Homo sapiens: one gene and its partner. The protein of the gene in region 2 interacts with the protein of the main gene of each other region in a pairwise test. Each region holds a gene or a part of one and is shown on either strand. Other genes may lie near its edges.

Evidence for each region.
Region 1: the proteins of DAPK2 (region 2) and CCDC91 interact in binary tests that used the Homo sapiens proteins (3 or more experiments, as listed by UniProt).

The regions. Positions count from the first base shown.
Region 1 is NC_000012.12:28,188,761-28,192,675, reverse strand, and holds the start of CCDC91 (coiled-coil domain-containing protein 91), read right to left. Parts: upstream 2,221-3,915; 5' UTR 2,035-2,220; exon of another isoform or gene 1,938-2,034; intron 1-1,937. UniProt on the Homo sapiens protein: Involved in the regulation of membrane traffic through the trans-Golgi network (TGN). Functions in close cooperation with the GGAs in the sorting of hydrolases to lysosomes.
Region 2 is NC_000015.10:63,983,639-63,987,553, forward strand, and holds part of DAPK2 (death-associated protein kinase 2), read right to left. Parts: intron 117-3,915; coding exon 1-116. UniProt on the Homo sapiens protein: Calcium/calmodulin-dependent serine/threonine kinase involved in multiple cellular signaling pathways that trigger cell survival, apoptosis, and autophagy.

The DNA of each region.
Region 1 (3,915 bases), on a different chromosome or scaffold from region 2:
AGGGAGGAACAGTAAGGAGACCAAAAATCCTTAAAATACTGGAAATCTAAAATATTAATTTATCGTTAGTAAATAAGAAACAGATATACATAAACACCAAGAGTTAATCCAAAGAGAGATGCCTTTTTCAATTAAGTTCTCATTGTTTGGACAGAAAATAAGAAAATTTGATAAACTTTCAAGGAAGATTAAAAATCACAAGGAACAGGTTGACAAAGGAGTGCTGTAATTATGACCTACAGTTTGGGAACAACTTATCTAAAACATTCCCCTTCCATTTTACTTAATGGAACCAGTCTTATCCACCCATCCACTCTACTCCACTCCCACTCCGTCTTCTACTATCTTCATTCATAACAATCATATGTAATGCATACATCTGACACATATAGATAAGAGTACAACATAAAATGCCTATTACACCAAATTCCTGTTTGTCCATTTAAGCTCCAGACAAGCTCATTTTTAAACGTCTTTTTTCTCTATTTTAATGCCACCCAAAACCAAAGTGATGTCCCTCTGGAATGATTTTCTGCAGTTTCTTTTGTGTGTTATTAAGTACTAAGATGATCAAAATAAACAAAAATGTCTCAGAAGTTTTGAGTGGATCACTCCAATAAGAAGCTACATTTTTCCATTTAATAAAAGTTAAGAGGTAAGTTGTAACTTTCATCACTTTGTTTTCTTTATGTTTATTCCATTGGGCTTATACTGTTGCTAGGAAACCAGTTCATAAGATTTCCCAGCCCACAGAACACCCTCCTAGGCAGCCTGGAGGATACCAAACTTCGTAACCAGGGCAATTCTCTACCACACAGTTTACTGGTTAGCCAACACCATGCAGGTGCACTCTGCCTGGCATGACCCTTACTACATTTACCTAATAGGTACAGACAGTATAACCAATCCCCTCAACGCAATAGAAATTGTAGCAGAGGGCAATCAGGTGATCATTAAGTGTAGAACTCTCCGACAGCAGGGAACACAACAGCGAATTTGTTGTCAGTCCCTGTCACCCCACCCAACTAAATATTGTGGGGGGGGGAAGGGTTGCCTTAAATTGTGAAGTAAAATGTCAGCCCACTCCAATAACTCCACCACGCAACATGCAAACTGCTTCCAAAAACCATCATCCAACTCCCACCCGGATTAATATTTGGAGAGAAAGGTGGCATCAGTATCCGCACAGCTGAGAGGGGAGGGAAGGAAAGAGTCAGAATTCATAAGGGGCCGCTGAGTCACCTAAAATTGTGGCCAAGACTTTACCCTCCAGGAAATCGAGCTCTGCCCCAACTCTCATCAAGGAAGCAAGTGAGAGTAGCAGCAGCAACATCATCCTACCAAAAAAACACCAGCGCAGCTTTTAATAGAGTTCCACTCCTTAAAGTGAAGCCAAAAATAGGTTTCATGTCCAAAGCTTTCCTCCGCAGTAGGCGACACGCGCAGATGGAGAAAATATCTTTATTGTTGGGAAAGGGAGGCGTGCTAACGGGGACGAAGGATACCTCACCACTTGGCAAAGTTACTGGCTCCTGCCTTGACCCTGAAATGCCACTTTTATTGCAACATGTGGCCCAAGAAACTCTAAGGAAATGTGGCTGGCAGACGCTGTAGAGCTTTTACCCCAATGTACTTGGCAAAGTAAAAGGGGATACATAAACCAGGCGCGTTCTGTGTAATCTAAGCAAGAATCAAGGTCTCCGTTCGGTAGGCGCTTCGGTGACACAATAATCACGTGTTCGTGGGCGTAGACTTTCGAAAACACTCGATTCTGGGACGTGCAGATACCGGTACCCACCGGCGAGCGCAGGAACGAGTGGGCACTCCCACCCCCGGGAGCTGGCTCCGTTCCCGCAGGAGGTTGGTCACGCCCCCTGACTCCTGGTCGCTGCGACAGCCAAGGGCGAGGCCGCAGCAGGCGGGCTGCAGGCGGCGGAAGCTCGTCCGCGCTCCTCCCCCGGTGGGGCGCTCTCCGCTCGCCTCGCGCGGCCCCGACCCCAAGACCCAGGCCCCGGAAGGCGAGCGTTCACTTACCTGCTCCCCTCTCTCGCTCTCCGCTGCCGCCGCTGCGCCGCTCACCCACGCTGCCCGGTGAGCCACCCCCAGCACACAGACCCCTACGCGTACACCCGAGGCACGGCCCCAGGCCCTTGAGGGGAGACCGCGGCCCAGCCACACAGGTTGGGGTAGCCCACGCACCACCCGGCTTCGAACACCTCTGCCCCCGGAAGTTGATTTCCGCCAAGGCCCGCCCAACACAGCGCCCGTCACTCAACGTAAACACGCGCGTCACGTGGCCCCAGGCCGAGGCCCGGGTCGGGGCCCCATGTTCAGAGCCCTGCCACCCCAGCTTGAGCGTGGTCTTTGGAGCGTTGCCCTGTGAAAAGGGGTGACTTTGCCATGCTCCTTCCCAGTCTACCTCCTGTTAGTTACAGTTTCTCATTCCTCTTGAGTAGCAGGCCCTGTTTCTCCACCTAATCCCTGCAAGTAAACCGTCCCCCAAATCAAAATGAGTTCCATCTGGAACTTTGTAGGATTGGTCCTAAGAAGATCCCGCCGAATCTCTTCACCACTTCCTAGCAGAGCACAGTAAAACCGGGGACTAAGCAAAGTGGCTGACATGTAGTAAGTGCTCAAGAAATGGATGTTGACTAGATGCTACCTCTCATCTTTGCCTGTCTGAACTCTCAAGCACCGGATGCAAGTAGACTGAGAGCCTCCGCCAACCAGTAAGATGACTTTGGTCAAAGAATTCTGCTCTAGAGTTACTTTTGTTCTTGTCTTCAACTCCAGATCACAGCAATTCATACGTGCCATCTCTGTTGCAGAGTTTTCTTGCAAAGCCTTTCTTAAAAGCTTTCTGTCAAATAGCTTGTCCTGAAGCAATAGGAAAAGAATAGCGTAATTCACAGATTATTTATTTGAAAGGAAGGAATGATTATATAGATGTCTTTGTCCATTTCAGACTGTCAATAGCGATGAGAGAAACAGTCAACTAGCAGTCCACTCGTGAATGTTTCTTCTGTTTTTGCCATGGAAGGATTTTGAAGAACATTCATTCAACAAATTTTTATTGATTGTATACCACATACCTAGTCCTGGGCCAAGTTTTGACAATTCAAGAGTGAGCAAGGTAACACTCAAGATATTTGTCTTCAAGAAGCTTACAGTCTAGTGAGAAAGAAAGACACTAACCTGGGGACTTTGAGCATAAATCTCTGGAATATTCACATTCCTTGTATAACAAGTATTCTTTCATCCTTGGACACTGGGTTTCTCATCTGTTGAACAAAATTGGCTTAAACCTGTAATCTCTGTTCTGTACTGGAAGTGGAAAATATTAGCAAGGCATCCTGACAAGTCTGCCATAAGTGCTGGCCTAAGTAGTTAATGAGCAGTTTCAGTATTGAGCAAGTCACCTTGACTACATTCTTTTTCCAGCCCACCCCCTTCTTTATGCATACAAAAAACATTTCTATTGTAAGAAATGTAATGCTTTCTTACACATATTTTTTTATCTGTCTACTAGACTACCAAGTCAAGGACCACTTCTCACTTGTATATCCAGCAATCTACTCACTTCTCATTTGTCTTTGTGTATCCAGCAGTCTAGCAAAGTGTCTAGTAGTTAGAAAAAAGGTATTCATAAATATTTCTTAAACTTAGTAAGGTTACCTTTATATTATTTTGTCTCTCATATCTCTTTCTGCTGGAAACCAGATTAGTTTCTGGGAGTTCCTTCCCATTGATGTACTTACATGTTCACTCTGTCCCGATATTCAATACTAAACTGTATTCCATACTAAACAGATTTATAATAAGTAACTAATATTTATTATTAATATTTGCTATGTGCCTGGCATTAGATTAAATATTTTAAATCCCATATATAACTTACCACAATAATTTTACAAA
Region 2 (3,915 bases):
CCTCCCGGCTCACACCGCGCCGGCTCGCCCGGCTCTGCCGCTTCTTGATGAACTTGGCTGCATACTCAAGCCCCGTGCTCTTCTCCCGGCACTTCTTCACGATGGCAAACTGGCCACTGTGGGGACACAGACCCACAAGATTAGGTCATCACTGTGGTCATTGGGGAAATGACCCCACTGTCAGCTACCAGGTCACACAAATTCAGAGTGATTCTGCCAGGACAGGACAAATCATGCCACCAGTCTGCATCCCCACCTGATGACAACCTGTGGATGAGATGGGGCAGGGACTGGGCTTCCCTTCTGTCCATTCCTTCTATGAGGAATGAATGTTAGTATTCTTAGTCCCAGTGTACAGAGGTGAGCACTGAGGCCCAGAAAGGTTATTGATCAGGATGACATAGCCTTGTCATTGCAAAATCTCAGCTAGAACCCAAGTCTAGGACCCACCAGATGAAATCACAATGTCCATAAGCAGACTGGGCTGGTGGGGATCCAGGTTTGGGTAGAGTTTGGAGAGGAGGCAGCCTAACAAGGTTAATCATCATAGTGGGGGAGCATCACAGTCAGAGGACTTGGTATAAACAGAGAGTTGTACAATTAGGAAACTGAGGCATAAGGATAGGTCATGTGACTCGCCTGAGGTCATCGCAGAGTTAATGGCAAAGCCAAGCCTCAAAGTCAGATACCCAACCGGCTGTCCACAAAGCCTCTGAGATAGTTAGAGCAGTCTAGACCATTATTATTCCCCTTCAGGCACTAGTACCCAGGGCTGGGCTCAGAAACCCATTACTCCAGGGACAGAGACAGCAAGCATGAAATGGAGTCCATGGCAGAGTGGCAGGCAGCCCTGAGCCAGCTTCCCTGAGTGCTCCAGGGGCCCTCCCCACAGGGAAGGGCACCAACCACCTGCTTCTGCACCTCAGTTCAGTGACCAGCAGGAGCAGATCTAAGTCCTCAGAGACTTCCCAGTGACCATCTTGCCCGGGGGTCCTCCCGTCCCCTTACTGCCATTTGCCATCATTGCCCCATGTTTTCTTGCCACCCAAAATACCCACTGCTTGAGTAACTCAGAAAGTTTTCTGGTTCAGCTTAATGGCTCAATAAGGGGCCAGCAGACTCCAGACTTAAGAGGTACACTCTTAGTGGCTCTGGGTTAAAAGCTACATACAGGGAAATGCCTGGGATATTTGCCCCAAATGCAGAAAATAGCAAAATAGCACTGCATCTGAACCACTCCATCATTAGCATCATCCTCAGTGAGACAGTCTTCAAAATACCCGGAGTGGCAATAACAACAACAAAGTCAAGTTCAGCAAGCAACAGATACATAGGCCAACACTTAGGTAGCATTCTATGGCAGCCACTTCAGAGACGTTCCCAAACACAAACTCATGCATCTCTCCATTGCCTTAATCTCCATTCAATCAACACTGTCTGGGCATCCAGTCTGTGCCAGGATCTGTGCTAGGCACTACGGGGCAGGGACCAAAGGCACAGACAACAGGTACAGATGGAGCTCTAGGGAAAGAGAAGATCCTGGGGGCTGGACTGGGCAGAGAAGGCTTTGTGGAGCCAAATTTATCTTACATCGTCCACTGACTCTAAATTTTTAGCTATTTCAGTTCCAAATATTGGCTCTGAGCTGTGCACACACTAAGGGCTGACGCAGGTGGAGTGGAGCCAGGCCTCCCAGAGCCAGAGTGAACACATTCAGTGTGAACTCTAACACATATGGTCTCTTGGAGCCACTCTGGGCCTCGAGGACAGCGGGTGCCTTGGTAGGTGCCAACAAACACTTGACCGAGCTTCCAGGCCCGGGTGGCTCTGAGTCTCAGTGTCAAGGCAGCCACACGCCTCTCCTCTCCGACACCTCAAGCAGCCGCTGGCAGGGCCTGGCATTTCAGAGTCCCTGTGACCTTGTCACAGAAGCCCTGAGTTCCTACTTGACCTGTGGGGAAAGCAAAGCTTAAGGGTGGTAAGGGATACACTTAGGTTTACAGAGCACATAGGCAGTGGCGCAGGGCTTGGCTTGGCATCCAAATCCCCCAGCTCCCAGCCCTGCACTGTGTTGACAGCCTTAGGACTTGTGAAACGGCAGAAGGGCTTTTGTAAACTAGAGCTAAACATTTCAGGCCATGTTGACGTTGTTTCCCCTTCCTCTTATGAGGGAAACAGTGGCATTTTTTTTCTATATCACATGCCTGAAAAATTCCTCAAACTCTCAAAAAGCAAATGAGTGTTTGCTTTTCCTGCCTGAGTTTTCTCTTTGCGAGACAGCTGTGGCAATGAGTGGTGACCGGGGCAGGCCCACTGCACAGGCATCTTTCCCTCCCCAAAAGGAGGTATTTTGAGAGTGGGTGACTACGATGGCGCCAAATACCACACACCACCACTCGTCTCACCTGTCTTCACTCAGGCACAGCCCTCTGCTCAACCTGTAGAGGGGAGCCTCAGAGGGAGCCAAGGCTGCTGGCTGGTGTCCCCCACTCCTTGGGCTGTTTCCAGAAGAGCAGAGAACACCCTCCACCAGACCCAGCCCCCAGGCTTCAAGATCAGACAGGCCTGGCCTCAGAGACTTATGCTTTCACCTGCTCTGAACATAGATTTGCTCATCTGTCAAATGGGAATCAGGGTTCCCTGCTAGAGAATTGTGAAGACTGGAAATATTTGTAATGTTGGCCCGTGGTACTCAAAAGTGGTTCATGTGAAGGCTGAGCAAGAGACATCCAGAGACATAAGTCACTGATTCAAATGGTCTGGAATGTGAAACCAAGGAATTGGTTTAATTTTATTTATTTTTAGAGATGGGGTCTGGCTCTGCTGCCCCGGCTGGAGGGCAGTGGTGTGATCATAACTCACTGCAGCCTCAAACTCCTGGGCTCAAGCAATCCTCCCAACCTCAGCCTCCCGAGTAGCTGGGACCACAGGTGCCTGCCACACCACCCAGCTTCAGTTTAATTTTAAAAGCACCACCCTACCCCGCCAATGATTCCCACGCACAGCCAGATGTGAAAATAGCTCTATTCCGAGCAAGTAGCCAACTCTTTAAATCCTAGAGCAGTGGTTCTCAACCCAGGCCACACATTGATATTGCCTGGGGAATTTTAAAACTCCTAGTGTTTAAGTCTCACCCTGAGAGATTCTGATCTCCTGGGTCTGGGCCTGAAGATGGGGCTATTTAAAAGCCCGCTGGGTAACTGACATGCAGCCAGGGCTGACTTACAACAGCTTTCTGATTATCTCCATTTCACAAATGAAGAAACTATACCACTGTTACTCATACTAGTTCCTCATTTTCAGTATTACACTTCCCCATAGTTCTCTGATCTGATCATTTCAGGAAAGGAGTAAAGAAAGGGAATCAGAGGGGAGGGGTTGTCTCTCCCATCAGCATGATTTTTGCTTGAGGGGTTCACCAGTCTAACTGCTGTGTTATGAATATGCAAATCAAGGCAGAAGATTACTCTAGCTTTCGGAGGATAACAGGAGTGAAAATTTGCAGTCAGGCACTCCCTGGCCACTGTACTCAGCAGATGCACAAAAGCAGAACCTGAGGTGGCTCTAGTATGCCCATCAGAGGGCCCAGCCAACCCAAGGGCAGGTGACAGCAACAGGCCTTTTTCTGCACACAGAAGGCTCTGCAGCCAGAAGTTGAGGTCCCACAGTGCAGAAGTCGCCAGCTAGGCTACAGGGATGATGGGTGGGAGGCGAGGGTCTGTCTACTTTAGGACAGAGCCACCCAGAATGTCATCCAGGGAGGGAGCAGAAGGGAGCAATTCAACCTCTAATGAAAGTCATTGCTAACACTAAATCAAAAATGATGGGAATACTGGAATCTGGTATACATATGCAAAGCACACATATTCCAGTATCTCTGCCCCCCATAGCAACAATCAATACCTATGCATGGTC